Linked DNA regions of Homo sapiens: regions 1 and 3 are each linked to region 2. Evidence: fine-mapped expression QTL. A gene starts in region 2. Each other region holds a variant in brackets. All regions are shown on one strand. Distances are between the middles of the regions. Region 1 overlaps LOC105377343 (a long non-coding RNA gene). Region 2 holds the start of TSPAN5-DT (TSPAN5 divergent transcript). Region 3 has its middle 110 kb from the start of TSPAN5-DT.

Region 1 (10,936 bases), 140 kb after region 2:
GAGACTGCATTGACATGATTAAATTCCCAAGGCCCTGAGTTCTTTAGGGATAGGCTAGTATCATTGTTTACAAAAGTATTTTGAACTTGATGGAGTTTATATTGAGAAATAATATGTATATTTATATTGTATTTTTATCTTTTAACTACATTCTTCCAGGGACATTTTTATTCCCCCTGTTATGTGTAATAAAAAAGTTGAACTCAGGGAGGCAGAGAATAGAATGATGGTTACCAGGGTCTAGAGGCTGAAGTGGAAAAGACTGGGGAAATGCTGGTCAAAGGACACAAAATTAGACAGACAAAAGGAATAAGTTCAAGAGATCCATTGTACAGCATGATTACTATAGTTAATAACAATGTATTGTATACTTACAATTGCTGAGAGTAGATTTAATTGTTCCCACTATAAAAAATGATAAGGGTATAAGGTAATGTATATATTAATTAGCTTGAGTTAGCCATTCTGAAATGTGTACATATATCAAAATATCATATGTGTATACCATAAATATATATATATATAATTTTGTCAATTAAAAAAAGAAAGAATTTTTTTAAAATCTCCAAATGTCTCCACTTCCTCTCTTGTGCTCTGTCATCATCATGAGAACTAGGCAGCTGGGGGATGAAACGCATGTGGCAGACCCAACCATCCCAGTGGAGGCCATCATAGATTACATAATAGCCAGATGATCCCCACACATGTGAATGAGAACAGATGAACCCATCTCTGATCAGAAGAGCTGCCAGATAACCTGTAGACTTGTAAGAAACAATTGCTTTCCACCACAATTATTATGTGAGGTGATTTATTATGCAGCAATAGCTAACTGATACAGATAATAATAATAATTTATTGAGTATTTAGTATATGTCAGGTACTCCTTAATGCTTCTTTCATAAATCATTTCATCCTTGTAATAACTCTGATAGTACTACTACAGACTCCTTTTTAAAATTCATATTATTGAGGCTAAAGTATAAACCTTCAAAATGATTTTTCACATTCTATTAACATCACAAATATCCTGTGCCATAGACAGGGAAGGTATGAGACAAGATCAAGTTGTCTAATGTACGTGCAGTTGGAGTCTTAGATGATGAGGAGAAAGAGAATAAAGTAGAAAAAAATTAGAAGAAATAATGGCCAAACATGTTCCACATTTTGTGAAAAACATCCACCCACAGATTCAAGAAGCTCAACAAATCACTAGCAGGATAAATACAAAGAAAACCACATGTGGGCACACTATAGTCAAACTGCCTGAAAATTGAAGATAAAATCTTTAAATCAGTTAGGAAAAAAAATGATGTTACAGAGGAGCAACTATAAGAATGATACATGGGCCAGGGACAGTGGCTCACGCCTGTAATCCCAGCACTTTGGGAGGCCAAGACAGGCGGATCACTTAAGGTCAGGAGTTCAAGACCAGCCTGGCCAACATGGTGAAACCCCATCTCTACCAAAAATACAAAAAAAATTGGTGGGCATGGTGGCTCACACCTGTAATCCTAGCTACTCAGGAGGCTGAGGTGGGAGAATCACTTGAACTGGGAGGCAGAGGTTGCAGTGAGCTGAGACCGTGCCACTGCACTGCACTCCAGCCTGGGTGACAAAATGAGACTCTTTCTAAAAAAAAAAAAAGAAAATGATATGTAACCTCTAATCAGAAATAATGGAAGCCAGAAGACAATTAAAAGATTTGTTTAAAGTGCTAAAGGGGGAAAAAGTCAATCTTGAACTATATATACAGCCAAAATATACTCCAAAAATGAGGGTGAAATAGATATTGTCAATATATGAAAACTAAGAGAAGTTATTACCCCCAAACATCAATTATAAGAAATGTAGTTAGAGAAAATTCCTCAGGCTGAAAGAAAATGTCACATGGCAACTCAAATTTATAGAAGTAATGAAAAGTACCAAAAATGTAAATACATTGGTAGATATAAAAAGTTACCATTTTTTCGGTAGATATAAAAGGTTATCATTTTTTCCTTTTTTAATTATATTAAAGATAGTTGGCCCTTTAAGGTAAAAAAATTATATTTGGAATTTGCAATTTGCGTAGATGGAAAATATACAACAAAAATAGCACAAAGTACGGGGATATAAATACATTAGAGACTTAAGTTTCAGGTGTCTAACAATTAATTAAATGCCTTTTGATCATGGCTAGAGTTTGCCATTTGCTATGTTGGTAGCCACCCATAGGAAATGAGAAATGTAAGGCATGGTCCTTGACCTTGAGGAACTTACAAGGAGCTGAGAAAGCAATGTATAAAACACAGAAATACCCCAGCAATAATTGAAAGATAATGAGTGGAAAATCAAAACAGCAGACAAAATGGCTAGGATTTCCTAGGGTTCAAAATGCAAAGGAGTGATAAAATTCACTCCTAGTCCATCTGAAGACAATTTATGAATTAGGAGGGGGAAAAAACAGATTTCCTCTCATAGTTAATGTCTGGAAAAGTATGTAAAACTGGACTTCAGCCCCAGTAACACTCAGTTGGGCTCCTATGAGCAGTGAAACACAGTGGCTCTGATCTGAGTGGATGGAGATGTAATTGGAAAGATTTCTAGGATCCTGAGTTGTGCATTAAATAACTTCATAAACATAGACGGTTTTCACATCCAAAGGAAAGAATAACTTCTGCATTAATTTTCAGAAAGAGCTTCAAAGAATCTCAACCTTGGTACATTTTTGGAAGTTTCAGATCCAGCTCAACTAAACTTTGCTTTGTCTTTCTGTTTCAAACAATCTCATGGGAATGTTTTATATTTCTTCTTTAAATTTCATCTTTTTGGAAAAATTATGAAGGCAAGGGTTTGAGTAAAGGAGGAAATTTGAAAGTTTGCGATTCTTAGTTAGTATTGAATATTAAATAGCCCAAAGGCTATTACTAAGCAATAATTCTCTGGAAGAATATTTAAAGGAGTCCTTTTCTCCCTCTCTCATTGAACACACTCATTTATGCATGCACACATATTCCATCTGTGCTACTACAAATATTAATTTAAAACTTGGCAGATGATTATCTTAAAAGATGAAATAAGTCATCAACTGCCAAATTAAGAGTTAACAGCTCCTAGCATTTAAAATTGTGATTAGATTTTTACTGGGTATCGAAAGTTTACTTTAACTTTCAAACTAAAGGGAAATAATATAAATTGTGTCTTCAAGAAAATAAGCAAAATTTTAAAATAATTTTTCTAATTGTGCCCTCAAAATTCATGTTTATTAATTATAAAGCTATTCATTTATACTCTAGAAAACTTTGAAAATAGACACACACACACACACACACACACACACATTGAGAAAAATGGGAAAACCTAAACTTTCATCATCCTCTCAGAAAAAAGTCATGCTAACATTTTTGTTTCCCTTTTGGTCTATCTTTTCTGCATGCACACATACTTTCAGACAACATTAAAACGTTATTTTTAATAACTTTTAGATTATACTGCTTTAACAGTTTTGAATCTTTTCTTTCATTTAACCAATCATTAAAGATCTTTCAAACACATTATTTTAGGTATCTGCCATAATTATGTATCTCTAGTATGGCCTCCAATGATTATTGCCTCCTGGTAATCATGACCTTGTGCTATAGCCTCTTACAATGAATACAGCTAACCTAAGTAACCAATAAGATGCAAGAAATGGTAGCATGAAAGACACTACAGCTTCCACCTTGCTCTTTTTTGGACTATTCTCTATGGGAAAAGCCAGCTGCCATGTTCATGATCACATCCCTATAGAGAGGTCCACATAATGAGGAGTTGAGGCCTCCTGCCAAGAACCAGCACGAATTTGCCAAGTACTTGAGTTTTTCATCATGTAAGAGGATCCTCCCACCTCAGACAAGTTTACACATGACTGCAACCCTGACCAACACCTTGACTGTAACCTCATACAGACATGGAGACAGAACCTCCAAAGTGATCTGCTCCTGGGTTCCCGACTCATAGAAATTGAGTGCATTCGTAAATATTGATTGTTTTAAACATTTAAATTTTAGGATAACTTGTTGTATATGGACAACTAATAATTATTTTGGCACCAAAAGTGGGGTGCTACCATAACAAAACCCTAAAATGTGGGGTGGCTTTACAACAGAGAAAAGAAAACAGTTTGAGAAGTAAAAGAATAAAGTACATTGCACCAGATGAAACTAGGGACAGAGTGCACAGACAGCCTACAGATGGGAGAAAACTTTTGCAAACTATTTTCATTTGATCTGACGAATACATGGAAAATATGAGACACTATTGAAAAACTATTATAAATAATGAAAGAATTTAGTAAGGTGATAAAAGACCAAAGAACTATGTTTCTACCCTAGATGCATTCAAGGGGCTTTGAATAGAGGTCCGACCAAGTGTGTTTATAGGCAGTGGTAGGAGAAACAGAGCTGTTTCTTGATTGTATCCTACTTAATTCACTTATTCAGCGAACAAGTTACACAAATACACACAATAATTTTAGCTGTATAACACTTGAACACTACATGCGTAATCCTGAAATGTGGGCACATGCACTTATAAACCCTAATTATTGTGGGGGAGTTGTTGCTAATTTTGAAACTACAATTAGCAGGATGGAAATAATGGAGCATCTGGTGATTAAAGCAGCGTGTCAACCTGAACCACCTCATTCCTAACCTCAGTCCCTGTAGCTTCTCATATTCTTTCAGATCAGCTTCTCTGAGACTAATCAGCAAGTCTTTGCTGTTTAGCTTCCTGGGCCACTGCTGAGTCACCCTCCCACTCTTAGCAGGCTCTTACTTGTGTGAGTTTCTGCTAAGTTATCCAGTTCCTATCCCTAAGGGTATGTTCAAGCCCTGAAGCCTAACTAGTTTCTTCTTGAAGCAAAAATTTGCATGTTGTTA[A/T]CTCTCAACTACTTATGGTTACAGGTCTCAGGAACAGGTGGATCTTGTTGCTGAACCACAAACTAGATTCTGCCTATGAAATTTACCTGCTCTACCACATCTATTAGCAAGTGATAGAGCTAATCAGGATGTGTTGCCTTTGCTTGCTCTATCGCACATTCCCTGACAAAGATATCAATGACAATGGAAAGGGATAACCTGGAGGAGGGAATAAGAAGACAGTAGGGTCCGACAAGTGAACAGCAATTCTTTGGACCCACAGGGACTGTCAGTAATCTCACCAGGCACTTTTAGGGTATATCTCCAGGCTCAGAGCCCTTGCAGTGATGTTTTATACACATTTGGCCTTCCTGCCATGTTTGACAAAAATCCCTAAGGCTAAAGTGCATTGAAACATAGGAATATATTGGTGTGTCCCTTTCTGCAGTCTTCCCAGACTTTGGAAAGATGAATATGACTGTCACTAAGTGGAGACTCTGCAATCCCCACGCAGAGTTGGCATGGGGGCACTGGTGATGAGCAAAAGGATAGGGATCTTCAAGTGACTTTTTAAGCACACAAAGAGAGTAGGTGGTTCTTCATAGGCAAAGGAGACAAATTGCCGGAAGCCAAAAGGTAGACAGTTGCAGTAATCTGTGTGCTTTCTCAGAAATGAAATACAGAGATCCTACCCTTCCATTTCGTCAAGTAAAAGTGAGGCTTGTGAGAATCTGTCATCCTTTGCTTGGAAACTCTATGCTGAAGCATGTGCCATGTTTACTCTCAGTAAACTGCATCCTAGGCCTATAGAGAAGAGAGCAACCAACTATTAAATGGTTAGAAAGAGAAAAAACATGAGAAAGTTATCTTCAGCATTCCCTCATTTATGAAGCTATTGAAATAGCACATCCTGGAATATGCAGACTAAATTTTCCATCCTGGTTTCATAACACTTTACAGTCTCTCCATTTATCTCATGAGATATTAAGGAACTCACAAAACTGATTTACAATTAATTTTATTTCAAATGAATATATAGCATATCACATTTGATGAATCAGAAAGAGGAAATTTGAAAGACAGTAAAAATAGTATGTTGTGAACTTAAAAAGAAGTTGAAAATCCTGTCTCTATAGATAGTTCTGGCAAAATAAATGCATATAGAGCAAAAGAGTGAGTACATCAGTGTCCTTTTGGAAAGTCGGTGACACTCAGAATGCTTTGGGGGCTTAACCTTGATTCATATGGAATTTGAAAAGCCCATGTCTCACCTCAGGATTCAGTTTGATTCAGCCTTTACTATGTCCCTCACACTGAGCTAGGCACTAGTGATTCAAAGAGAAATGGCACCCACCTGCCCAAGGAAGAGTCTAGAAGATGGCATTTTTGCTATCCTACCAGCAAAAAGAAACAAGGGACCAAGTCAGTTTAGCAAACACTATTGTGAGCTGACTGTAAGGCTCTATGCAAAGCCCTGATAAACCCCCAAATAATGCCAAGCAGCAAATGACTTTTTAAAGCCATATTACATATTGACTTTGTAATGCATAATGGGCATCTGGGCACAGAAGATTTACTTCCCTAATTATGTGTTACTTATGCTAATATTAAAATTAGCCTGTATTCCCTAATCACCTTCAGAGGAAGAAGTGGCTTTAGAAGCATGCTGGGCAACAGATTAAAAAGGATTGAAAATACCTAAGTGTGAAAAATTTTATAATAAAAGTTAACACCCATGAGCTTTTAAAGATAAAACATGGCTTCTCTTTCCACTCACTATTCTTTCTTCTTCATATCTTTTTTCTTCTTTTTTTGTGAAATTATATGTGACTCCTTAAAAGTATGAAAAACGTTTGCTGCAATCTTTATAAAACCGTGGATTATGGAAGGAGCCCCCACTAAGGGTTTAGATATTGTACTAAGTATGTTACGTAAATTATCTCTTTTAATCTTCCCTAGAGCTGTGTGAAAAAGAGATTGTTATCATAAGTTTAGAGATGAGGAAACTGAAGCTCAAAAAGTATTTACATAACCTATAAAAGATCAAACCAGAATTTAAATATTAGTCCATCAACTTTAAGACTTATGCCTTTCTACTATCCAATGCACTCTAACCTTTAATATCCCACTGTACCAGTAGCCAATAGAGAAATGGGCAAAGGAGAGAAATCCACCGTTCACAGGAAAGGAAATACAAATGGCCCTTAAACATATTTTGTAGATGTTCAAATGGGCTCATAGGAAATGCAAAATAAAACTTCATCTGTCAAAATAGCCGAGAGAAAAACCATTTGGCATCACGCTGTGTTGGCAAGGGTGTGGGGAAAAAGCCTTGCTCATTCGTTGCTGGTGAGAGTAAAAGATTGACGCAACTGCGTTAGAGGGAAATTTGCCAATTCCTATCAAAATTACCCTTCTATAATTTTATCCTTCAAGTATATATTTGCACTTGTGAGATATGACGTGTGCACAAGATTATTCATTGCAATGTGGTTTATAACAGGAAAGGATTGAAACAACCTGATGTTCATTAACAGGCTTACAAATTATGTTCATCTATACAAAGAATTGTATGCAACCATTACAAAATGAGAATTATTGTTAATGTAATTTGTTAAGTGAAAAAATGAAGGTGCAGAACAGCAAGTGCTATGTGTTCCCATTTGTGTAAAGGGAAAAGTATGCACAAGTCTTTGTATGTAACTAGACTATATCTGGGTAGGCTGGGGTGGAAGGGAGACATTGCTTCACACCCTGTGGATCTTTTGAATTTTGAACCATGTAATGTATAACCCCTATTATTTTATTTCGTTAGAGATGAAGGTCTCACTATGTTGCCCAAGCTAGACTTGAACTCCTGGGTTCAAGTGATCCTCCCACCTCAGCCTCCCAAGTATCTAGGACTACAGGCATATGCCACCATGCCCAACTTGTATAGCCAATTTTTAAAAAGTAAAGCTTAAAAATTAAAATGAATGCCAATTACTTCCCTTTGATTTGAGAACACCATATTTAGCTACTGAATAATAGAAGGAGGACAATGATACTCTATTGAGTTGAACCTGAAAGTTGTGCAAATTTTTATGAAATCACCACCAGTTAGCTTTTTCTTTGGACTTTCATGTCTTTGGAACTACTTCTTCCCTAAATTGTTGTTAAGGCTATAAATTGAGCTCTTTACTTCCTTCTTATAACAATGTAACAACAAGAAGGATAATATATAGGAGGTCGGCTACTTGCAAAGCTCTGAGGTTAGAGCTGTGGCTGTATTGTCTCATTTAATCCTCACTATATCCTTAAACGGTGGAAATACCAGCCCCACTTTAAAGGTGAGAAAACAGAGACTTAGACAAGTTAGCATTTTCCATTTTAATTGGTTTCCAGGCAGTATGAAGCAACTTTTTTCTAATGCGTATGTCTTTGAGAGGAAAGAGAAGTTTTTTTAAAACGGTCTTTAAAAGCCCACCATGCCATGCAGAAAAAAAAAAAAAAAAAAAGATGCTGACACAAAATTTATTCCACAGAGATTATTCTAAAGGACTCTTCTCACATTCAAGTGCTACTCAGAAAAATAGTCCATGAGTTATATAAGAGATTCTAATATTTTAAAGGAAAAAAAATCCCATAAAAGTTGAGCTGCCAGGCTCCTTTGCCCGTTCAATTTCTCAAGTCTGATGTGTTCAAAGCAAATTCTCTTCTTTTACAACAAAGAGTACTCAATTCTTTTCTTATTGCATTATGATAAAGATCATATAGTACATCCCCTTAGCACTCTTTGCACCAGCCTCAAGCATTTTCTCACAAGTTCTCGAGTCGAGGGTAAAAGCCTGCCATACTAATAGGTATACCAAAAGCTTTCCACTAAAAAATATACTTGATATGTAGTACTGAAGTAAGGACAACAAAATCAATCATTCAGCCCTGGGTTTTATTCCCCTGTCACTGCTTAGGAGGCTTGAATTTAAGTTATAGTGCTTGCAAGAAGTGCGTACAAAACTGACCTTCAATTCCCCATTGTCCCAGCTGATATCTTCATCGCCAGGGTTCTCCAATTTCCTCTCTCTTAGCCATTAAGAAGTGCATCAGACCTCACTATGGAGCTCCCAAGAGAAGTGCTAGTATGTTCTAGTTCAAAAACTAAGGAGATTGAAAATAGTTTTCCCATCAAATTGCCATTTTGGTCTTAAAAGGTTTTCATTGTGTTATGAGGTTTGCGCTAGAATTCAGACATCTTGATAATGAAAACTCTGTGTTGATATTGGTGAACCGAAGTGACTAAACTGCTACTCCCAGGGCAGAATTTGGTGTGCAAAGCACACGACAAAGACAATATAAAAATTATTTTATTTCTTTTTTGGGTTTTGGTTGACATGGATTTTGTTTATTGCCTCCACATAATTCTATCCAATGGGACATATTATAATCATCACCTATTTATGGCAAGGCATTGTTCTAGGCACGGAGGATACAAGCAAATGCAAAACCAAGTCCCTGCACTCAGGACTTTGATATTCTATGAATATTCTACAAGATTCTGCAGAGGTTATACCAGTTATTACATATAACATCTCAGGTAGGTGCTATGTGACATGAGAACAATGAAACCAAATAAGGGGGTAGAAACTAGCAAAGGGTGCATTTCAGTTAGAGTGGCCAGGAGGAGGAGGTGCCACTTTCACAGAGATCTGAGAGAAGCCTGTGGTTATCCAGAGAAAGAGACTCCAGTGCACAGGGAACACCAAACTCAAGGCCCTGAGACAGGAGTGGGTTTGGCAGAAATAGCAGAGGCCTGTGTAGAAGGATAAAGGGAGCAAAGGGGTGAATGGAAGGAGATGGGGTCAGAAAAAATAGCCGAGATCCCTAATGAGCTCTGCAGGTCAAAATAAAAACTTTGGACATTGGGAAGCCATGAAAAGGTTTTGAGCAGATGAGTAACATAATCTGATTTAGATTTTTGAATTTTTAAAATTTATTTTTTTTAATTATTATTTTTAGGCTGGGCATGGTGGCTCACACCTGTAATCCCAGCACTTTGGGAGGTTGAAGCAGGTGAATCGCTTGAGCTCAGGAGTTTGAGACCAGCCTGGGCAACAAAGTGAGATCCCATCTTTATAACATTGCAAAAATTAGCCGGATATGGTGGCATGTGCCTGTGGCCCCAGCTACCTGGGAGGTGGAGGTGGGAGGATGGCTTGAGCCTGGGAGGCAGATGTTGTAGTGAGCCAAGATCATGCCACTGCACTCTAGCCTGGGTGACAGAGCCAGAACCTGTCTCAAAATATGTATAATTATTATTTTTTTTAAAAAAATAGAGACAAGGACTCACTCTGTTGCCCAGGCTAGAGTGCAGTGGCGTGATCATAGCTAACTGTGACCTTGAACTCCTGGCCTCAAGCAATCCTTCCACCTAGCCTCACAAGTAGCTAGGGCTACAGGTGCATACTGCTACACCAGCTAAGTTTTAAATTTTTGGTAGAGATGAGGTCTTTCTATGTTGCCAAGGCTGGTCTCAAACTCCTGGCCTCAAGTGAACCTCCCACCTTGGCATCCCAAAGTGCTGGCATTATAGACATGAACTGCTGCACCTCACCTGATTTACATTTTTAAATGACATCTTGGAATCTATAATTATCTCAAAATAAAAGTTTTTTAAAAGATATCTCTGGCTACTGAGTGGAGAGATGACTGTAGGGGTTATGGTAGATAGACTCTCAGATGGCCACAGTGATCCCCACCTTCCGGTGCTCCTACCCTTTAGCATGAGTACACACTCGATTTGTTAACTCACTAATGAGGAATTGAATATGACAGAAGCAATAGGATGTCACTTCTGAGATTAGACTAAAAAAAGACTGTGGCTTCCATCTTGAACATCGTCTCCCATATTCTCTCCATCCCCCACCCCCTTCCCTGCCATCTTGCTCATTCTGGGTGAAGGCAGTTGCCACATTGTGAGCTGCCCTGAGGTCTACACGATAAGAAGCTGAAGCCTGTGACAGCACATGAGTGGTCCTGGAAGTAGACCCCCCAACCCTAGTCAGAAGTCTGAGGAAAAG
Region 2 (10,936 bases):
TAAAACAAAGTGACCCATCTAAATGAGTGCAACATTTTGGCAAGTTTATGGTGGTTGAAACATGATTTGGTTTTCCAACTTCTCCCCACTTGGCTTCATTTCAATCTGCGGAGTATATCAAGTGAGAATGCTTCTGCGCCTTCATACTGCCCCACAGAGGGAGTGGCCACACTAAGCAAGCCTATATTCAATTACTTTCCCCACTTTATACCTTTCTTACACTTTTCCCATATGACACTTTCATAACCATATTTAGCTTTCTTCCTACCATCTCCCTGTAATTCAAAACGCAATTTAGATTCCCATATGGTTGCCATCGAAGCTAACAGATGTCTAGCAAATTAAAACAAAAATTATGACTTATAAACTGCTGATGTATCATCATTCCAGAACATCTTGCAATTTATAGTGAATCATAAGATAAAGCTTCCTACTTGATGCCCCCCCTCCCCCACCGCCCCAAGGTTTCCTGAGTCTCCCTCCTCTCTGAATTAAGCCCTGTGGAAGCAAATTAGAGGCAAGATCCTGCCATCAACCCTGGATAAACTTGCACTTAAAGACACAAGGTAATATCTGAAAGCATATCAAAAGAGAAAGTTGGCCTCAAGTAACTGAGGCTTTTCTAATCCTTTGTAGCAAAGAAAACAGAAAAATGACTTGGTTCTCCCAAATCATTCCACCGTTTCCATTGAGTTCTTTCCTAACAAGTCACTATAAAATCTATTGAATCCATTTGCCTCATCTTCTTGGCAGATCTTAAGGGTATTATCATTACCTAGTAGTAATGATGCCAAAGTACTAGACTAAGGCATTCTAGAAGTTCTATAGCCCTGTATGGAACCAGTATAAAATCTGGAGACAACAACAGTAATGATATTCACTATTTGTTAAATATTGAGATATTATGCCGAATAAAACATTATCTCACTGAATCTTTAAAACTACAACACCATTAATGTTATCTTTCCTTTATAAACAAGAAATTAAGGCTCAGTGCCTTAATACAGTAGACTATATTTTTCAAAGATGGCCACAACCTACATGACTTTCTGCAATGTGACCTTGACACTTCTCCATCAAAAGGTGGCTTCTAATTCTTCACCCTTTGAAATTCAGCAGTCTGCATGAGTGCTCTAACCAATGGAATAGATAAAAGTGGCACTGCCAGTTCTAAGTGGAACCTTAACTGGCTGGAAGCTTCTTTAAGACTTAGAGACAGGAAGAAGCCACGTGTAGGTAGGTGCTCCAGTGACAACTCTGGCTAAGCTCCCAGCAAGCATCAGCTTCCAGTCATATGAGTATACCATCTCAGGCATCCTGCCCAGAGGGCCTTCCGGTAAGTCCAACTCCAACTACATCTCACCACAACTGTATGAGACCCCAAGTGAGAACTGTCCAGATGAGCCTGGCCAAATCACAGAACTGTGAACTATAATAATAAACAACTGTGTTTTAAACAACTAAGCTTGGAGGTTATGTAGCAATAAATAACCAGAATATTGAGATCAATTTACTTGCCTGGGAACAGTTAAGTATCCAGAATCCAAAACAGTTAAAAGCCAGAATCCAAAAGGGCAAAACATCTATTAATGATGAGTGATGGGATGTGGTGTTCGGTACCCCAAAGAAATGACTTTAAAACAAAATCCTCTTTCTTCTCCCTCCCCCAAACCCAAAGCAGTCTCAGGGTTTTCTGAGAAATGTCCCAGTACGGTGACACCCTCAATAAAATCAATTCCCTTCTGTCTTGAATTGTTCCAATATATAACAGAGGAAACAAGTTTTCCCCCACCAGCCTGTGATAACTAATGAGAAAGGAATCTGTACAAGATGTTGACTTTGTTACTCAGAATGTCATTACAACTGTTATATAAAAGGATTCAGATTTTATACATGAAGCTGTAATTCTAATAATAAAAATATATTTAATGACTCACAGGACTACATTTGAGATTCACAGTGGGGAGAGAGAAGCACGGACACTATACCAGGAACTGAACAAGCCAAGAAGAAATTAGTGAAAGGTTTTTTGTTTTGCTTTGTTTTGTTTTTTTTGAGACGGAGTCTTGCTCTGTTGCCAGGCTGGAGTACAGTGGTGTGATCTTGCCTCACTGCAATCTCCACCTCCCGGGTTCAAGTGATTCCCCTGCCTCAGCCTCCCGAGTAGCTGGGACTACAGGCACCCGCCAACACACCTGGCTAGTTTTTTGTATTTCAGTAGGGACAGAGTTTCACCATGTTGGCCAGGATGGTCTTGATTTCCTGAACTTGTGATCCGTCCACCTCAGCCTCCCAAAGTGCTGGGATCGCAGGCGTGAGCCACCGCGCCCAGCCTTGGTTTTTTTTTGTTTTTGTTTTTTGTTTTTTGTTTGTTTGTTTTTTATGAAAGGATCTTTGAGGAAGAAATGAAAGTAATAAAACTAGTCTTCAGACAAGTCTCCCTAACAGAAAATGTCTATAATTTATCACGTGTCCTGGTATATACTACTTCTGTTATAAATTAGTGGCCAAACTCTTCTATTTTTCTTCTCCAGCATATTGGAACTCAAGAAACTCATTCTGTGTAAGAACTAGAAAGAACGTTATAACTCATCCACCTCCTTCAATTTAACAGCTGAGAAACTGAGGCCCAGGCAGTTAACTGATGAAGAGCCAAACTGCTGATCAGGAAAAGAACCAAGCTCTCAGTGCTGGTGCCACCATATGTTCAATTTTATTTTACCAGAACTATACCTTTGAATGTCACCAGTGTATGTCAAATGTAGTCTAGCAGTTCAGTGTGAAAATGAAAATTAGGAAACCATGCTGTTGGCAATCTCTTCTTCATAATTGTATGGGAGTAGCACCGAGTCTGCTGTTTTTGGCAATCACAGACAGGTTGGTGACTCTGTAGAGAGCAGAGGTGTGTAACTTTTCAGAAGCAAGCTGCCAAGCTACTGACCCCAGCTTTTCAGTCACTAACATCTTAGTCTGAATTACTTTAACCAAAACCATATGGTTGCCTTTCTGTTGATCATCACTAGAGACCATGGTACAATAAAGCAGGAAATTTAAATATGGGGTAATTTTGAGGCAGAGAGCAGGATAGGAAAGGTATGAGGGAGTATCTGAGAGGAAGGCTTTGGGCACAGAGAGGAGAGGAAGGGAAGGCAAGAGGCAGGGTAAGTGAAGGGCCCTCATAAGGAAGGCACTCACTTAACAATTCTGCCTGGGGCAGCTAGTTTAGTCCCATAGCCTAGGTCTCCTTTCAGGCTTCCCATACTCACCCACCCACCTATGAAGACCTTCACAATCAGAAAACATGCGGCTCTGTTCTGGACCTCTCCAAGCAAGCACTCTGCAATTCTTTGAAGCTCTCTACAATTCCAGGGGTTTTGCTGCAACCTAATCCATAGAAAGGGCTAAATTTGTCTCTATGCACTCCACAGAATTACAGCAAACTGTCAGGGAAACAGACCCAAATCCTTTTATTTCCTTACCACCCCCTGCTAGGAAACGGCAGAGAAAGTCCCTGGGTGCTTTTTGTTGCTGGGTAGCTAAAATGTGCAACTTTTAGAAATGTTCAAGTAGAAACAAGAGGCCTGAACTCACTACCCCAAAAAGAACCAGTCCCAGTTCGGTAGTCCGTGCCTCTCCAAGTCACAAAGTTTCAAGTTCCAATCAAATCAGAATATCTTACTCAAAACCGTGGCTACCCACCACTTTTAAACATTTTCACAAATGGAGAAGGGGCAAAGAAAGAAAATAATTCCTTCTTCCTGTACTTGTAGCAGTGTTTAATTGCAGGGAGGTGGGTGACTGCTCCCGGGAATCATGCACAACACTGGCAAAAAACTGCCTGTGGAATGATCGGATATGACATCCATTCATGTGTCCCCTCATTATCTTTATTAGTCCTGAAGACAGATGACATGCTGACACGGAAAGTGGTCTCCAATCCCTTGCATTTCCCCTCACAAAACATACATGACCAATGCAAGGTATTATAATAGAAAACAGAAAATAAAATAACCTGGTAAGAGTGCGGTACAAAAAAAGAATATGAAGAGCCGTATTGACAACTATTCTCACAGATGTATATACGTACAGCAAACAGCCCAAATTAAAGGAGAATTCAAATAAATACATTCCGTGTTCAGACTGCTGTGGATAATTATTGATCCTGCAGTTGGAGCATTGTTTACCTCACACTGAACAGCAACTTAGAGAACCCCCTACCCAGACAGCCACCATCTTTACTTTCTATGGAAATGCGGGTGCCCACTGAGGAAGAGGATGAGATGGGATGAGAAGGGGAAGAAAAATAACATGGTCTTTGAACCAACGTTTTCCCCTTGTCCTGGAGAACTCTTTGTCTGGCTGCTGAACACGTTTGCCAGATCAAGGAAAAGAATCAAAACAAACAAACAAACAAAAAGAGTAGGCGTCCCAGCCTAATTACAATAGGTTCCCAACACATTGCAGTCCCAAGCAGAGCATCATTTGAATCTTGTGTTAAAGCATTTGCTCTCTCGGTTCCCCAATAAAACATGCCTCGCACACCTTCTCCTTTGCATTTCTACAAAGGTTCCCCCAAACGGCCCGCTCTGTGTCACTCCTTTAAAAATGAGGACGTGGGGCAGGAACACACTGAAATATATGTTGACGGTGACTTATTATCCTGACGATGATATATACATACAAATAAATCCCTCTACCCCGCACCCCCACTGACCAGTCCATTACGCACAGGGAGCGCTTTCCAGCTGAAGAGGAGAGCGTGCAGGAAACGTTATTTACGTGCAATTACAGGACCATATACCACGGCATCTGCATCCTACACAAAGCCCGAGATGGTGCAAGAAGATACACGCTGAGCATGGCACAGACCAGCCGCGGCAACACGGAGCCAAGCCCTCGTCCAATCAGATCGTTGTTAGAAGGTGGACCTCAGGGTCGGCCGTGCCCGATTAGCCTTCCCTATTATGACACCACGCTCTGCCCAACATCTATATCCCACCGAGAGCAAATCCAATTCGTGTGGTTGCTCATTTCTCAAACTGCCGAACCCTTTCTTTTATCTGCATCCCTGCTATTCGTTCCTCAAAAAGCCACCAGAAGGCCTCGGTGCCCCCTTTCCGCCTCGATTTCTCTTTTCACCTCTTCCCATTCCTCGAAAGGATTAAATGTTTATCTCTCCAACGCGCAAGCTGGAAAGGCGGAAGGCGAATGCCTCTATGCTGCTCCGGCAAGCGCCTGCGGGGCTGCGAAAAGTAAAGGCAACGAACAACGTGGGGGAAATCGTCGCGAATCGATCGGCCACAATAGTTGGAATCCCAGGAGCGCTCCAACTTACCCAAAATATGACATTGAAGCCAAATATGAAGTATTTGATGCAACAACTGACTTCAGGACCCTTGTAGTGCTTCCCGGACATCCTCTGGGTTCATGAAGACACTTGCCCCGGCAGCCCGAGTTTGGAGCTCCGAAGCACCGTTGCTCGGAGCAGCCCGGCGGGGAGCAGGAGCTCAGGGACACCGCACGGGGCCGCGGCGCTGGCGGCCTGGGCTCAGCCGCGCGGGGACCGACCGGCGGAGAGCGGCTCCCGCACCTCCAGCCCCTCGCGCGCCGAGGCCGCCGGAGCCGGGGTGGCCGCGAGAAAGCAGGGAAGCCGCGCGCTGCAAGCTCAAGCCTCGCCGACGCTAGCCCCGAACACAAAGCGAGCGCCCGCGTCCGTGCGCCAGGCGGTCGGTCCGTCGGTTCGTCCCCGGGCTTCGGGCAAAGGCGGCCGCGGCAGATGCTGGTGGAGACGCCGCTCGCTTGCTCGCCCGCCCGTTCGCGCGCGCCCTCCCACCCCTCGCTCCGCCCGCCTCTCGCTCCGCCCGCCCGGCCGGCTGCTCCTCCGCCCGCGCCGCCCGCAGCTCCGCCCGCCGCCCAAGCCTTGGCTAGGCGCGCGCGCGCACGGGGTCGGGCGCTCCCGGGCGGCGGTGGCACCACGTAGCCGCCTCCTTCCACCGCTCGCTTTATCCCCGCCCCTTCTCGGGCCAACCCCAAGCGCCGCTGACCCCGAACGTCGCTGCGGGGTAGGTAGGGGGTGGGAGGGTGGAGGACCGCAGGCGAGAGGGAGAAGGAAGGGCGCCCGGGGAGCAGGCTGGCAGAGTGACCGGGATTGATGAGCGGCGCAGCTCTGGAGGGACGCGGGCGAGAGGGTCGCTCCTCGGGGAGAGGGCTGGGTGAGTGAGGACCTGCGAGCCACCCCCGACACCCCTTCCAGGGTAGCCACACTGGCGCCCCCTCCTCCACAACAGGCTTATGTGGCTAGAGAAGATGCGATGCCACTGGACAGGGAAGGAAAGTCGTCGTGGACTTCGCTGAATGGAAAAGGGGGTAGTTGGGGAAGGTGGAGAAAAGAGCCACGGGAAGTGGGAGGAAAGGATGAAGGGATGGGACGTTGAAAAGGAAAGCTTCCTGAATCCCTGTGTGACTCTAACCCAACCTCCCCACCTACCGGAGAAATGGGTTTTATCCTAGAAATGGGGACGAGGAAAAAGAGATGGCTCAAGGGAGTCCTGGCCCGGGATGCGATCCTCGCCCTAGGGTCTATTGCAACCACACAAACCCGGACAGCGCACGCTCCCCCCTACCCCGACAGAATAGTGCCTAAGAAACCTGCTTGCCTCCTAACTCTAGGAAGGAATCCACAACGGATTCCAGGGAGGTCTTCTGGGGAATCTGAATTGGGTTTTTGGATCACGAACCATTAAGCTTTTGAACTCTGGGGAAGAATAGAACAGGTGGCTGGAAATTGTTTTAGAACCCTACCTGAGCAGGTGTGCTCATTAGTTGCTTATCCGCCCTCCTCCTGGAGCACTTTCATAGGTGTTGGCAAAGCAGGTACCAGTATTTCACGGAAGGAGAAGGAAGAACCGCCCAGGACTGTGTATAAATGTCTATGGGAATATTTTTAAGGATTCAAAAGGCTAGAAGGAGGTGAGATCAAAAAATTTTTCCAGCACCACCCAGTGCAACCCGATCCTGGACACAGAAATCTAAAAGATGATACTTAAATACTTGAGTTTGAGAGCCTCTAGTTATAAGGTTTCCTACGTAACAACCTCTCACTTTTCTCAAAAACTGGCTAGTTGACAACCGGCAGTCAAGTTTTGGCTAGTCAAGAAGCTACTTTTTCCTGCAATAAACCACATTTAGAGATAGTACTGGGCTTCAGCAGGATTGAGGCTATATTGAGGTCGCAAGTATGAACGAGGTACCCACAGAGATGGGAGGGCCAGGAGATCCTACTCATTCAGTACCTCAGAAGCTATGACACGGGATAACAGTAGCTTCAGCCCTTTGGATGAAATAATCCTCACTCCCTCAAAAGTGCTCTCTACCCACTCAAAACACAGGCCATACTACCACCAATCTGGTAGACTTCAAAAGTAAGGTCTTTCAGCAGCAGATTTCCTTGTTAACAGGAAGGTACTGACAAGCTTTACCTAAGCCTATTGGAGCTATGTTGTAATTCTGTATATAAATAGAACAGTCGCTGCAGGAATACTGGATGAGTCAGAAGAAAGGTCTGTCCTAAGCTGATGTGACACATTTCAAAAGGACCAGAAATTAGATGCAATTGATGACTGAGTTGATCTCTAAGTGGATTTATCTTTGAAATAAAAATCAGTGGATATCCCATATACCCGACCCCACACCCTCCCCCATTGTCAACATCCCCAACCAAAGTAGCACATTTGCTACAAATAGTGAACCTACATTGCCAGATCATTATCACCCAAAGTCCATAGTTTACATTAGGGTTCACTCTTGGGGCTGTATATTCTATAGGGTTGGACAAATATAGAATAACATGAACCCACCCTCATAGTATCATAGTATCATACAGAGTATTTTCACTGCCCTAAAAGTCCTCTGTACACCACCTATTTATCCCTTCCTCCCCCCAGTCTCTGGCAGCCACTGAAGTTTGACTGTATCCCTGTCTCCTTAGTTTTGCCTTTTCCGGAATGCCATATATAAGGAATCATACAGTATGCAGTCTTTCTTTCAATTTTGCTGTGAAACTAAAACTGCTAAGAAAATAAAGTCTTAAAAAGAAAAATCAATGGAGAAGGGAAAGGTAAGATAACTAATCAGTAATTTGGAGGGGGGGGTGGAAAAACTAATTGAATTATCTCATTTCGTATATCCAAAATAAGTTCTATGAGGATTAAGGAGTTAAATATATTTTAAAGCAGACCAGAAGGAAAAATATTTGTCAAACCTCTGTATAGAAGTATTTCTCAACTTAGAGGCAATAGAAGGAAATAATCAATGGATATGATTGGGTAATATCTTAAACACTTCTACGTGTCCAGCTTTTTTTAGTGTAAGCTAAACCAGAAAAAAAATTGGCAGCAAACATGAAAAATAAAAACCTGAATGTCTATATTATAAGTAGGGCTCATAGAGCTATAGTAAAATATAGAATCGCAGTGGTTGAGTATAAACAGAAAATAAATCATATAAGAAATAAAATATATGGGGAAATTAATCTAGTAATAAATGAAGTATACATTAAAACTAATAAAGATACAAAAATAATGAGCACTGGTTAGCACATACATTGTTGGTGTCCTTATGAAATAATATGTCCATTTGGAAAGCATTTTGGCTGTATATATCAGGTCAGAGTGCTCCTACATTTTGACTCAGCAGTCCCTCTTCTGGGAATCTACCCAAAGAAATACCCCAGCAGATGGAAAAAGTTATACACTGCAAGATGTATATCATAGCATTATTTATATTGAAGACTTGGCCAGAAATTAAAGATCAAAGAGTAGGGGTGATATCCAATTCCTTGTAGTTACTTGGACCACAATGTTCCTTCACATTCTGTGCCTCTGCACATGTCATTTAGAGTTTCTGCCTGGGGCATTCTCCTTGTCTCTTGTCTGTGAGCTGATTTCTCTTATTCTTCACTACTTTTGTTCAATGTCTCGGAGGCTCCTTCTTTATTCCCTCAACACCCGCTGTGTTCTTCCATCCCGGCACTTAAAGGCTGCCTGTAAGAACTTGTTTACCTACCTGTCTCCTCAATCTGCTGTGACTCCTTCTAGGGTGTGACCTAACCCTTGGTAATCTTAGAATCACCAGAGCTCTGCAGATATGGCAGGTGCTTGATAAATATTTATTAAAGGAATGAATGAGTCATTTGCTCACAGTTTTTACAGCTCTTGAAGATACTGCTTATAGAGTATGTGGCAATATATGGATACATTATAATGTTAAATTTTAAAGGCACTATATATGGAATTATCTCCAAGTAATATTGTTAAATTTTAAAAACAAGGAACAAAAACAGTGTACACAGTAGGCTATCATTTTGTGAAAAGATAAGCTCTGTTGGCAAAAGAATATCCATACACATATTTCCTTGTTAATGGGTAGGCTATCTATGGAAGAAAACGAAATAAACTGGTAACAGCGAGTTAGGGTGGAATGGGGGGCAAACTGGGGGACTAAAGATACTGATAGGAAGGAGACATGTTTTATTTTTAAATAACCCCTTTAGTCTGTTTTTGAAATTTGTACCATGTATATGATACACGTTTTGAAAAATAAAGCAGTCTACAAAACGGTATGCAGTTGTATGAAAAAAAGTTAGGAGTTAATTTTTGCCAAATAAGAACAGTTATAAGGCTGGGTGATTTTGTTTTCATGTTTCTGGTTTGCAATTTTTAAGTGTGGTTAAATTGCTTTTACAATTAAGAAGATAAAATTATACATAAAGATGTAAGAAAGTAACTAAGTAATCATATTTATTTCACGCAACTCCTTCACAACTCAATAAATGCTGATCTATTTTAAGGAGAAAAGGAGAAAAATTTTCTGTCTGAATACTGCTAAGGCCACCTCCCTTATAACTCTGAGGTTGAAAAATGGTTAATAAGTTTAACTACTGACAAGTTAATCAGCTCTTCAAGTGGCAGTGAAAACAGGTAAAGCGTGTTCTTCTAATAGTTGCCTGGCTGAGGAGCAAGATATGACAACAGCGTTTTAACCTAAGACACCAAACTTAACGAGCTTGTCTGTCTCCACCTGTGCTTTATTGTTCCTGCCCACCTTCCTGCCTCCCTCCTCTTGGGCTCTGTCATTGTCTGCCTCTCTGCTCCTCTCTGTTTTTCTTTTGCTTCTCTGTAGCCGCCCTGCTGGTTGCCTCCACACCCCTCCTGCCGCCTTCCTCTCAGAACCCTAGCAGCTGTGTTCAGCGTCCCCCTCTTAAAGCAGCCACATGCTCTGGGAAGACTGGCCCTCTGCGTCACATCTGGCAGTCCCATTCCTCTTGCTAATGTGTGGTTCAGGAATGGGCAGGTGGCCCAATTCTGGTCAACAAGCCATGAGAAGAATCTGCTAGAGGTTTCCTTGCATCTAAGAAATGGTCTCTTTCGCCCTTGGACTTGGTTGGGTTTGGATGTGATGCCTCGATCCTCTACAGCCTGATGACAAAGACCACACCAAGGATGGCAGAGTGGAAGGATAAAAAGAACCAGGGCCTTCCAGCCTTTGTTGTATGGCTGACTTAACCAACCTTGAAGGTGGCCTTACTCACGACTTCCTGTCAGATGAGACAAATTTCTTGGTTAAGATACTTTGACAGGGGTTTTCCGTTTCATACAACTGAAAGTATCCTGACTTAAACACCTTTTGAGGTTCTGCCCCAAGCCTTTATTGATTTTCTCCTCTTGAATCACCACCAGCATTTCTGCATTTCTCTTAGTACCACGTTTTTTCTATTCCCCACACCCACCACCCCCTCTCTTCCCTAGCTGTTTCTGTCTCAAACAATACAGGGAAACATTTTAGGGTGTCTGACAGATCACACCCACCCCTTTCTCAGACCTTCTCAACCACAAGGTGCTCTCCCACCTCCAGCGAGGTTTGTACTTCACAGTTGATG
Region 3 (10,936 bases), 110 kb after region 2:
CATGCTCATGGGTAGGAAGAATCAATATCGTGAAAATGGCCATACTGTCCAAGGTTATTTACAGATTCAATGCCATCCCCATCAAGCTACCAATGCCTTTCTTCACAGAATTGGAAAAAACTACTTTCAAGTTCATATGGAACCAAAAAAGAGCCCGCATCGCCAAGTCAATCCTAAGCCAAAAGAACAAAGCTGGAGGCATCACACTATCTGACTTCAAACTATACTACAAGGCTACAGTAACCAAAACAGCATGGTACTGGTACCAAAACAGAGATATAGATCAATGGAACAGAACAGAGCCCTCAGAAATAACACCACATATCTACAACTATCTGATCTTTGACAAACCTGACAAAAACAAGCAATGGGGAAAGGATTCCCTATTTAATAAATGGTGCTGGGAAAACTGGCTAGCCATATGTAGAAAGCTGAAACTGGATCCCTTCCTTACACCTTATACAAAAATCAATTCAAGATGGATTAAAGATTTAAATGTTAGATCTAAAACCATAAAAACCCTAGAAGAAAACCTAGGCATTACCATTCAGGACATAGGCATGGGCAAGGACTTCATGTCTGAAACACCAAAAGCAATGGCAACAAAAGACAAAATTGACAAATGGGATCTCATTAAACTAAAGAGCTTCTGCACAGCAAAAGAAACTACCATCAGAGTGAACAGGCAACCTACAAAATGGGAGAAAATTTTCGCAACCTACTCATCTGACAAAAGGCTAATATCCAGAATCTACAATGAACTCAAACAAATTTACACGAAAAAAACAAACAACCCCATCAAAAAGTGGGCGAAGGACATGAACAGACACGTCTTTTTACTTTCTTTAAGATGTCTTTCAATAAGCAGAAGATCTTAATTTAGGGCGGTTAGATTTATCAGTGTAGTTAATTTTATTAATCATTTCCTTTATTGTTTGCAATTTGGGGATTTTAACTAAGATATGGTTTCTTACATTGCGTGAGGAAAGTGATCATTTCCTTTTTTTTTTTTAAATCTTGTCTGTCATATTTTTAAAACAGTTTTATTGAAATATATAAATTCCACCCACCCATCCATTCCATCCATCACAATTTGGTGATTTTTAAAAATATATTCACAGAGTTGTACAACTATCATCACAATCTAATTATAGAACATTTGTATTACCCCAAAAAGAAATCCTGTACTCATTGGCAGTCATTCTCCTTTCCTCCTTACTCCCTACCCCTAGTACAGCTCTAGGCAGCCACTAATCTACTTTCTAACTCTATAGCTTTGCCTATTCTGAATATTTTCTATAAATGGAACCATGTAATATGTGATCTTTTGTGATTGTATTCTTTCACTTAGTATATTTTTGAGGTTTACCCATATTGTAGCATGTATCAGCACTTCATTCCTTTTCATGTCTGAATAATATTCCATTGTGTGGATACGTGACATCTTGTTTATCCATTTATCAGTGATGGACACTTAGGTTGTTTCTACTTTTTGCTATTATGTATAATGCCACTATAAACTGTCATGTATACTTTTTTTTGAGCACTTATATTTTCACTTTTCCTGGATATATACCTAGAAGTTTATATAAAGAGTTTATGGTAACTCTATGTTTAGCTTTTTGAGGAACTGTCAAACTCTTTTTCACTGTAGTACATCATTTTCATTCCCACCAGCAATGTATGAGGGTTCCAGATTCTTACATCTTCCTTAATGCTTATTGTTTCTACTTTTTTTTTTATTATAGCCATCCTAGTGTGTGGTGGTGGGAGAGTGAGTTGTATCTTATTATGAGTATAATGTATATTTCTCTAATGACTAAATAATGTTGAACATGTTTTCATGTAGGTTTTTGGCCAGTTGTGTATCTCTTTTGGAAAAATGTCTGTTCAAATCCCACCTATTGGCCGTTTGTATGTCTCTTGGGAAAATATCTGTTTAAATCCCTTGCCCATTTTAAAATTGAGTTATTCTTTTTATTATTGAGTTGTAAGAGTCCTGAGTATATTCTGAATACACAACCTCTATATCTTTTAGTTTGTCTTTTATATTATCTGTTTCTTTTCTTTGCATATATGCTATATCCTATGTAATTTTTTTCAAATCTATCTTCTAGTTCAGTAATTCTCTCTTCAGCTATGTCTAATATGCTGTTTAAGAGATCAAAATATATGCCCAAATAGGTGTTAAATGATCCAAAAGCCATCGTTATATTAAATTATTATAATTGCAATTTAAAACTTATTTTATAGAACTGTTCTGCTTCTTAATACACTTGTCAAAACCACTTGAACAGTACACTTAAAATCTGTACAAACACTGTAAGTTACACCTCAATTTAGAAAAAATCATTAAAAGCTGAGACTCAGAACCTGGTACAAAAATTTAATTAATGGGGTAAATAGGGTGGAGTGGGGAGGATAAAGGCAGAAGTTGTAGTAAGTTTCAGTAAATAATCATTCAATAAATGTTAATTGAAGGATCACTACATGAATGAATAAACAAACAGATTAATTTAACAAAATTGGTTTTCATGTATTGCTTTGTGAGGCCAGTGTCATTATTTTGTAGCCAAAATACTCCTAGAGTTCTAAGCTTTATAATGTTTCTGATTGCTACTAAAGACTAATATCATTGTTTGATAGAGCATTCTGCATTCTTGCAATGTGGAGAGAGCTTTCAGGCCATAAGGACTGGGAAGCACCACTATTGTAACCAAGGAAACTTGTACGAACATCTTTTCTGGAGCACATTTGAGAACATGATTTTCTCTGTGCTAAAGTGATATTTTGGCATTACACCCAGGAGAATGACTTTCAGTCCTGTAGTTTTAGGAGAAAACTATGCCCTTCTGTTGACCAGAGATCAATATGAAGGCAACAGGTGGACCTACCCTTTGAGGCACTTTTCTAAAAATGTGCTCTCAGAACACTGCTAGCCCCTGGCAGATTTACAAGAAAGAGCAATGAGCCTTTCTTTTGTTCAATGTGCCTCTCACATCTGAAGTGTAAAATCATGACTTTCATAGAAAGGCTGTTACAGTCTTAACAACCAATTCATTCTTAAAGCTTCTACTGTGCTTTACCAGAAAAGTCAGCTTATATCTAACATTATTAGTTCTATTATTTCTCCAACTAATAAAAATGGACTACAGGCTCAAAATGGCTTTCTGAAGTGAAAAATATTGATACAAAGTATAATAAATACAATAACTCAGAAAAATGTCATAATTGTAAGTGGTGATTAGAAATTCTGTGCAACTATAGAATGTGAATCTATATGCTCTGGTTCAAGGTGATCTGCAGATGGGATAATTTCATACATGCAACATAAAAAAGAAAATGCAGAAAGAAAGTATGCCCAGTGATAAAACCATTAAATTGAATATTCCTGAACTAATAATCTATTTATCCCTATTCCTTGATACACTGTTCTGAAATTTTGTCAAACAGTTGTGTGAAGCCAGCCAAACTTCCCAAAATTTACAAATAAAGAAGAGTAACCTCTCTAGTAAACTAATGAAATTTTTCTAGCACAATCCCTGAATAATGTATTTCAGGAGGGAACCAATGTATTTTGTCACTAAAGGCAGAGACCAATATTACTAAGACATCATTCAGTTTTATTTCTTACTGCAAAGTTAGACACAGGCCACACTGTTGATAAGAAGTTTATAAAACTTCTATAGATACTAAAATACAGTGCTTGAGAGGAAACAGAATGAAATATTAGGTAATCCCTTATCATATGGAACCACTGGAGTCACATAATGACAACAGCATATAATGTGGACTCACTGTCACACATTCACGTTGTGTGCATGCATGTGTGTATATGTGTGTTCTTTTCAGTTGGATGGAACCTCTGATAAGCTGAGAGTATCCACCTTGGCACACGTCCTATTCATCCATGAACAAGAAGCACTTGATGGCATTAGTTCCACTACTCTCATGTTATTAAAGAGCAGGTGTTCATTATTTGAAAGCTCCTTTGTGAGAGGTGATATGAACTTGGGTCACTGTTGACAGATGTGGACATCTAGGAAGGAGGTTTTTATGAGAGTAAAAGAATTTTTTCCTGACTACCTAGCCTCACATTCTTTTATTTACAGAATTCATTGGCATTCAATACTGTCATCCCTGGTCTTGATTTGATGTTGAACCAAATAATGGAAATTATAAATATGATCAAATTATATCCACCAACAATAAAACTATTTAGCATGCTATGTGGGGGAAAATGGGCAATGACTTAAAAAATTCTACTTCTCACACTGTCATAGGAAAAAATACCCACATGAGACCATATATAGAAATTCAATTTTATTCAAAATACTCATATGAAATCATATATAGAAACACTTCTACATTACATAATACTGTTAATGCCAGGAAGCATTGAGAAGACTGTCTGATTTATTGTCTGATCAAGGACACTTCAGCGAGTAAGAAGGGGCACTTTTATTAATTTTATTGGGATAATAGACATAAACTGGGACTGTCCCAGGGATGTATGCTTACTCTAGTAAAGGGTAGTTCTAACTTCAAGTGACTTGTTCAGTATTATATGCATGATATTATCAACATATTGAATAGCATAAAACTATCACTTCAGGGCTGAAATATAATGATTTTTTAATGTTAAGGATGAGATATCAAGATTTCTTTTAAAAGACTGAATTATGACACAGATGATTTGGTTGCTGTGCATTTCAATTTTTTTCAATCCTAGATGATTTTCTTCACTCACAGGGGAAATAAACTGATCCTACATAATGAACATATTTAAAAATTTAAGAACATGCC[T/C]ACAAAAAAACATGAAGTACTTTGTGAAGCTGAACTCACCCAGATTGGATTTAATAATTCATCCACTACTGTCTCTCAAATTGAAACATCCAAACTCAAGTGCCTAGTTTTGTAACGGAATGGAGAGAGACATCTTACTGCAGTCTCACCATAATTTGCTCAGAAGCATTGGAAAGATCCACCTTGTTAACTATCTCCCAAAATTTTCATTGTGAGTTAAAACAGTTGTAATTTAATAGAACAAAGAGAAACCTGGCCAATGGCTCAAATTATCTGTGGATCCTTCCATGAAAGACGGTAAAAAAAGTATGATCCTTCTTACCAATATGGAACTATTAATAATAATAACAATGAAAAATTAACATATTATAATTTAGTTTTATTTCTTAAATTGTGAGGAATCTTTTGAAAATGTTTGCATTTATTGGTGATTTGTGCAATTTGGACACAGAGTAAATGGTCCACAAATGCTGAAAGTTTTAGAAACTTTTAAAAATGATAGTTCCATGAAAAAGTTAAGGCTTGTAGTTTTGAAACTGCCCTTGCAAAAAGTATGACAGTGAGAGAAATCTTCATAGCTGACTCTGTCTTCCTTCTAACCTCACAAGCTAACCATCTATGTTCATTCCTGGATATAAGCCAAGCTAACTATGGGAAAAGTTTAGTTCATAGTTTAAAACAACGATAAGCATCTCTTCCTAAAATGAACCCCCTTCTTGCTCAGGAACTAGAACTGCCTTTGTAAAATTAACAAATTTGCCACAAGGGTAGAGTTATGTTTCCAGCATCATGTGGCTGGAGGTCATAAGATTTATAACCTCCCCAACTGCGCCTATAGATAGCATCATAATTGTAAAACCAAAGACTGGTGTTTGAGGTATTTTTCAGACCTTGCATTCTGATGGACCAGCTGGAACCATCCAGACCCAGTAACCCATCCCAAGAAACTGACTTAACTGGTCTTGTGACCTCCACCCAAGAACTGACTCAGCTCAGGTGGACAGTTTTGACCCCCTTTGATGTCATCTCCAACCCAACAAATAAGAATTCTTCATTCCCTAGCCACCTGCCCACCAAACTGTCATTGAAAAACCCTAGCCTTGAATTCTCAGAGAGGTGGATTTGAGAATTATCTCCTGTCCTTCTACTAGACTAGCCTGTGATTATTAAACTCTCTTTGCTGCAACACCTGCTGTTCTCAGTGCATTGGTTTTTCTGGACAGCAGGCAAGAAGAACTCATTGGGCTGTAACAGTTTTCACCACTGTGCCTGAGCCTTAATCAATATTGCACAGGGGTGAAAGAATCAGTATTTTTAAGGCCTATGTTGCTCCAACTTATCCTACAAGAATCAACTCAAATATCGTCTTTTACAAACATTTGAATCTTTTCTTTGTGCCAGAATTACAACTATATACAAAAAGCAGCCCTTGTCCTGAGGGAACCTCAGAAAATCTGTGAAATCTCAGCAGCTTAGATGTTATGTTAGAGCAAACCCATGGGGCTCTGAAAACATACAGGCGAGCACTAACCAAAACTTAGAAGAATAAAACCAGGCAGCTAAGACCTGAAGGCTGCAGGGGTGGTGAGGGAAAGCATTTCAGGCATAGGCAACATAATTTGCAACAATCTTGGAAGTGAGAAAGAACAAACTGTAATCATAAACTATAGATAGTTCATTGCGACAGAACATCCAGTATAAGGTGAAAGGGTACCCTAATCAACATGGCTTTGATGAAGCATGTTACAGACCTGCATTCTGTGCACTGTAGGTAGCCAATAAAGGATATTAGCAAGAGAGTGACATGATTATATTATTGCTTTAGAAATATCATTCTGACATGTGGCCTTAGAATTGGAGGGAGGCAAGAAAAGGCAGAGAGACTTGTCAGGAGGCTGTAATAGCAATGGAATGACTTAAAAGTCATGGTAACAATCGTTGTGGAGATGCAAATGAAGGGGAAATTAGGGGATGCCGGTTACTTTTGACATTTTATTTGAGTCTTGAAGGATGAGTAGGATTTTATCAGGCAGGCAAGTAGGGAAGGGAATTCAAGATACAGCAAAGACAAAGGAAACTGAAAAGTAACACACATTCCCAGTCACTCACATATAAAATATATGGAATATGAAGAGAAGTTGGCTTGGGCACAGGTTGGAATGCTACCTGATTTTTTTGAGTAGGAGAGTGATCTGCTCAGATCTGTGTTTTAGAAAAATGAAAAAAGGGTGAAGGATGGATATGGGGGTTAGAGGAGATGCCTCCCTGACAGAGTCTTTTAGGACAGCACAACATCTGGTTATCCCACAGCACCTCTGGTGTCTCCAGAGGAATTCCTTTGATCCCAGGAGATTTGACCACAACGAGGGCAGAAAGGCCAAGACTTGTATAACTACTTGCAATACGTCCTTTCAGGAACCAGGCCAGTGTCTGAATTTTGGGATATTACGTTGGCTCTAGCTCTTTGTAGCAGGCACTGGAAATTGATAACCAGACAGTTCCCCTTCTCATGCCTCTATGTTGTTCAGGTCTCCCTTTACTCTGTGTGATCTGATGAATCTTAGCTGACCTAAGCCAATTACAGTAGTCATGTCCTCCTGAAGTGATTGTTCACTGATAAACATGTGACCCAATTCTGGTGAGTGAGGATACTCTGGAAGGATGAAATTCTGGAAAAAATCTTCTCAGCTCTGTAAAAGAGACTCAAGGAAAAGTTGGTCCCTTTTCTGCTTCTCTCAAGATATGACGCCTGCTGATCCTGCAGTTTATTGGGATTAAGAGGGAAGCTCATCTTGTCTTTGAGAGTTTTCTACTGCATGATATTCGAAATGCTAAAGATGACTGAGGAGGAGAAAGATTAAATCAATCTGAGGGCCAGGCATGGTGGCTTACACCTGTAATCCCAGCACTTTGGGAGGCTGATGCAGGAGCATCACTTGAACCCAGGAGTCTGAGACCAGCCTAGGCAACATAGTGAGACCTCATCTCTACTAAAAATAATAATTTAAAAAATTAGCTGAGCATGATGGTGTGTGCCTGTAGTCCCAGCTATGCCATTGGCTGAGGTGGGAGGAAGACTTGAGCCTGGAGATAGAGACAGCCATGAGCTATGATCACGCCACTGCACTCCAGCCTGGGCGATAGAAAGAGACCCTGTCTCAAACAACAACAAGAAATCTGTGTGCTTGATATCATCGGTGAGCCTCCAAATTAGCCAGATACAGAATCCCCCTGTTTCTTGATGATTTTAACCATTTTGAGTTGCATCTTCTTTTTTTATTCCAGACAAAATCCTCAAACTATTCAGGCCTGTTTTTGCAGTGGAGGTAATAAATGGAAGGTTTAGGAGTAGGGAGGGAAATATTCATCAACACTGGCTATGTCTCTTCAGTTCTTCCACCGTTTTCTTCTTGTTTTCTTCTCTGATAGGAATCAATCACCTGTTACAGAGGCTGCTCTGTGGAGGTAAACACAGGGATAGGTAGAAAGTAAATATTAACTGACTGTGCCTCCCACCCTCGAGTATTGGATTGACTGATTGCAGGAGTGGAAATATCACTCCTGGCTGTTCAAAGGAGCCACCGTGAGCTCCTGTTCTTTGCACAAGAAAAGAGTCATGTGCTAAAAACAGTCATCATATTAATGCAGGTCAATTTCTTCACCTGGAGTGGGATGAAAATGTCACAAAGCACCATTGTGAGCAAAGTTTCCCTTAATCGAGTGGCACAGCTAATTTGCAGCATTCTACCAGCAAGCAACCCCACCCCAACACAAAGAACATTGTGAGAGGCTGTGAGCTGCTGGAACAGGCTCAGATTTACGACTGGGTGCAGGGAAAAAATGACAAAGATAATGGTCCCTGGTCTCTCTTATAGCAAAGCAGGGACTTCAGCAAAGAAAGCTGTTTCTCAGCTTTTGAGTTCTATGACTCATCTTTCCTCACATTTTAATTTTCTGAAATTGGGATGCATCTCACAACTGACATGTAACATTTAATGTGATAGTATTTCTCTTCTCATAAGATGTTCTTGAAGAGATGTGTGTCAACTGAAGTGCCAGAAAAGCGTAGCAGAGCCACAGCCCTCAGGGGTGACAAACTTGCTGTTCAGCCAGTAACTCCCATTAACACAAGGCCCTGTGCTTGTGGAAAGCCTCTTGCTGGGGAATGGTGGCCACTGAGGCATATGGGGACTGGAGGTCTGACCTCTAGATGAGCAGGAGATGTGCAGGAGGCAGCAAGATTGCGGGTCCCTTAAGGGAGAGACCTCCCCTATACATCCCGCTTGGCCTGAAATTCCTGCATTATAAAGTCATTCAATTAGGTCTTAAAAGCTCTTCTTGTCTTTGAGTTGCCTACTGCATGGTTTTCAAATGGAATAGAAATAGCACACTTTTTTCAAGTAAAATCTCATTTCAAATAATAATATATAAATAGATATTCTTAATGGGTTCCTTACTTATTGGTGAATACTTTATTCTTTGCAGAACTTCTGAATCACCTCCTGGAGCCCTGTTTGAAAATTACTACTAAAATCAGCCAGGCATGGTGCCTCATGCCTGTAGTCCCAGCACTTTGGGAGGCTGAGGCGGGCAGATTGCTTGAGCCCAGGAGTTCAAGACCAGCTTGGGCAATATAGGGAGGCCCTGTCTCTACTAAACAAACAAACAAACAAACAAAAATTAGCCGAGCATGGTGGCATGCCTGTCGTCCCAGCAACTCAGGAGGCTGGGGTGGGAGGATCACTTGAGCCCAGGAGGGGGACACGTTGTAGTGAGCTGAGATCTCACAACTGCACTCCAGCCTGGGCAACAAAGCAAAAGCATGTCAAAAAAAGAAAAAAGAAGTAGAGGAAGAGGAAGAAGAAGAAGAAGAAGAAGAAGAGGAAGAGGAAGAAGAAGAAAAATTGCTACTAAAATTAACTGAAAGATACATGAAAATAAAGTCCTGAGGGAAGAATCAGATTACTAGAAATTTTTAATTTGCCTAGTCTAATATCCTCATTTACTAAGGAGGAAACTGAAGCTCAGAGAAGTGAAATGGCTCACTCAAAGGTGATAATTATCCGGGTGGTGACAGAGCTGGGATCAGAACCTGGGCCAGCTGATTTCTGACCCACAGCTCCTGGTAGAACAGCACGGTCCAGCTACAAGAGGCAACTAGTCGGAGGACTCACATCCCTGAGTCACAGGGTTGTCTGGCATTGGCCCTGTGCCCTAGGGGAAACACCTGCCCATCACAGCCATGGGAGCTCATGCAGCCATCTCCTGGCCCTCCTGCCTCTCCTCCTCCCTTGTGCTGTCATTAGGAGGATGACCGCCTTTGCACAGAGGCAGACAACCTCATCTAAATGGACCAAGCAATCTCTCATGAAGGAAGGTTGAATGACCAAGTTCAGAGACGGCAGAACCTTTCCCTGCTTTTCCCTTACCCGGGGTCCTGGGAATGTCCACCCAGAAATGTCCTCTGGGCTTTTTGGATCATCCATCATTTCTTCTCAAGAATCAGCTGTAAGGAATAGTGGAGTCTGCAAGCCTGGTTGGAATCCATGCGCCTTTCTAAGTAATGTGAGCACAATACTTAATGTGGCATCAGTGGCCTCAGGTATAAAATGGGATAACAGTAGCACTGCGCTGGTGGTGGTGTGGTGAAGATTCACTGGGATGAGATGGGGGTACTTTGCATATAGTGAGAGCTCAGTCATATGGTACCTATTGTTAATAATAATGCCAATCGCTATCTGGTTTGGCCTGTTGGGTAATTGTTTTGTATGAAGAATATCCCGCTTAATACCAAAAAGATTTTGAGGAGCTCCATCTTTTATGCTGAGTTGGAGGGTAGGCAGTAATCTGGTTGGACTCTGTTGAAAACCACACATCACCAAACTAAGGAAGATTCAGCTAAGATAATTTCCCTTTAGATGCTTTACTTTAATCCCTGCTGATAGAGTTGGCCCAATTCCTGGACTCTACGGTGCAGAAAGAACAATTCTACTCAGTAAATACATACCCAAACAAAGGACTTGATCAGCACAGGGATCTTTCGGATAATAGAACTACAGGGAAAACCTGCTTTCTGTGAAGTAAGTGCCTTAAGATATTAGTCTTCTCGGCCGGGCGCGGTGGCTCACCC

Evidence for each region.
Region 1: its variant is fine-mapped to the expression of TSPAN5-DT in whole blood (INTERVAL, PIP above 0.99).
Region 3: its variant is fine-mapped to the expression of TSPAN5-DT in whole blood (TOPMed, PIP above 0.99).

What each region holds. Positions count from the first base shown.
Region 1 is chr4:98,790,004-98,800,939 of GRCh38, forward strand. The region is part of intron 2 of LOC105377343 (a long non-coding RNA gene); the gene reads right to left. Among named protein-coding and RNA genes, the nearest start is that of EIF4E, 130 kb to the right of the region's middle. The variant A/T (reference allele first, on the strand shown) is at 4,902.
Region 2 is chr4:98,652,811-98,663,746 of GRCh38, forward strand. It overlaps TSPAN5-DT (TSPAN5 divergent transcript), which reads left to right and starts at 6,092. Exons shown (of 3, transcript NR_148380.1): 1 at 6,092-6,212; 2 at 7,988-8,116; 3 at 10,180-10,936. TSPAN5 (tetraspanin 5) reads right to left here and starts at 5,801. Exons shown (of 8, transcript NM_005723.4): 1 at 5,336-5,801. The coding sequence starts at 5,416. LOC112267901 (a long non-coding RNA gene) reads left to right here and starts at 5,913. Exons shown (of 3, transcript XR_939016.3): 1 at 5,913-6,062. RefSeq lists an enhancer at 459-1,658 and silencers at 5,366-5,525, 5,779-5,958.
Region 3 is chr4:98,763,837-98,774,772 of GRCh38, forward strand. No RefSeq gene overlaps it. Among named protein-coding and RNA genes, the nearest start is that of TSPAN5-DT, 110 kb to the left of the region's middle. The variant T/C (reference allele first, on the strand shown) is at 4,807.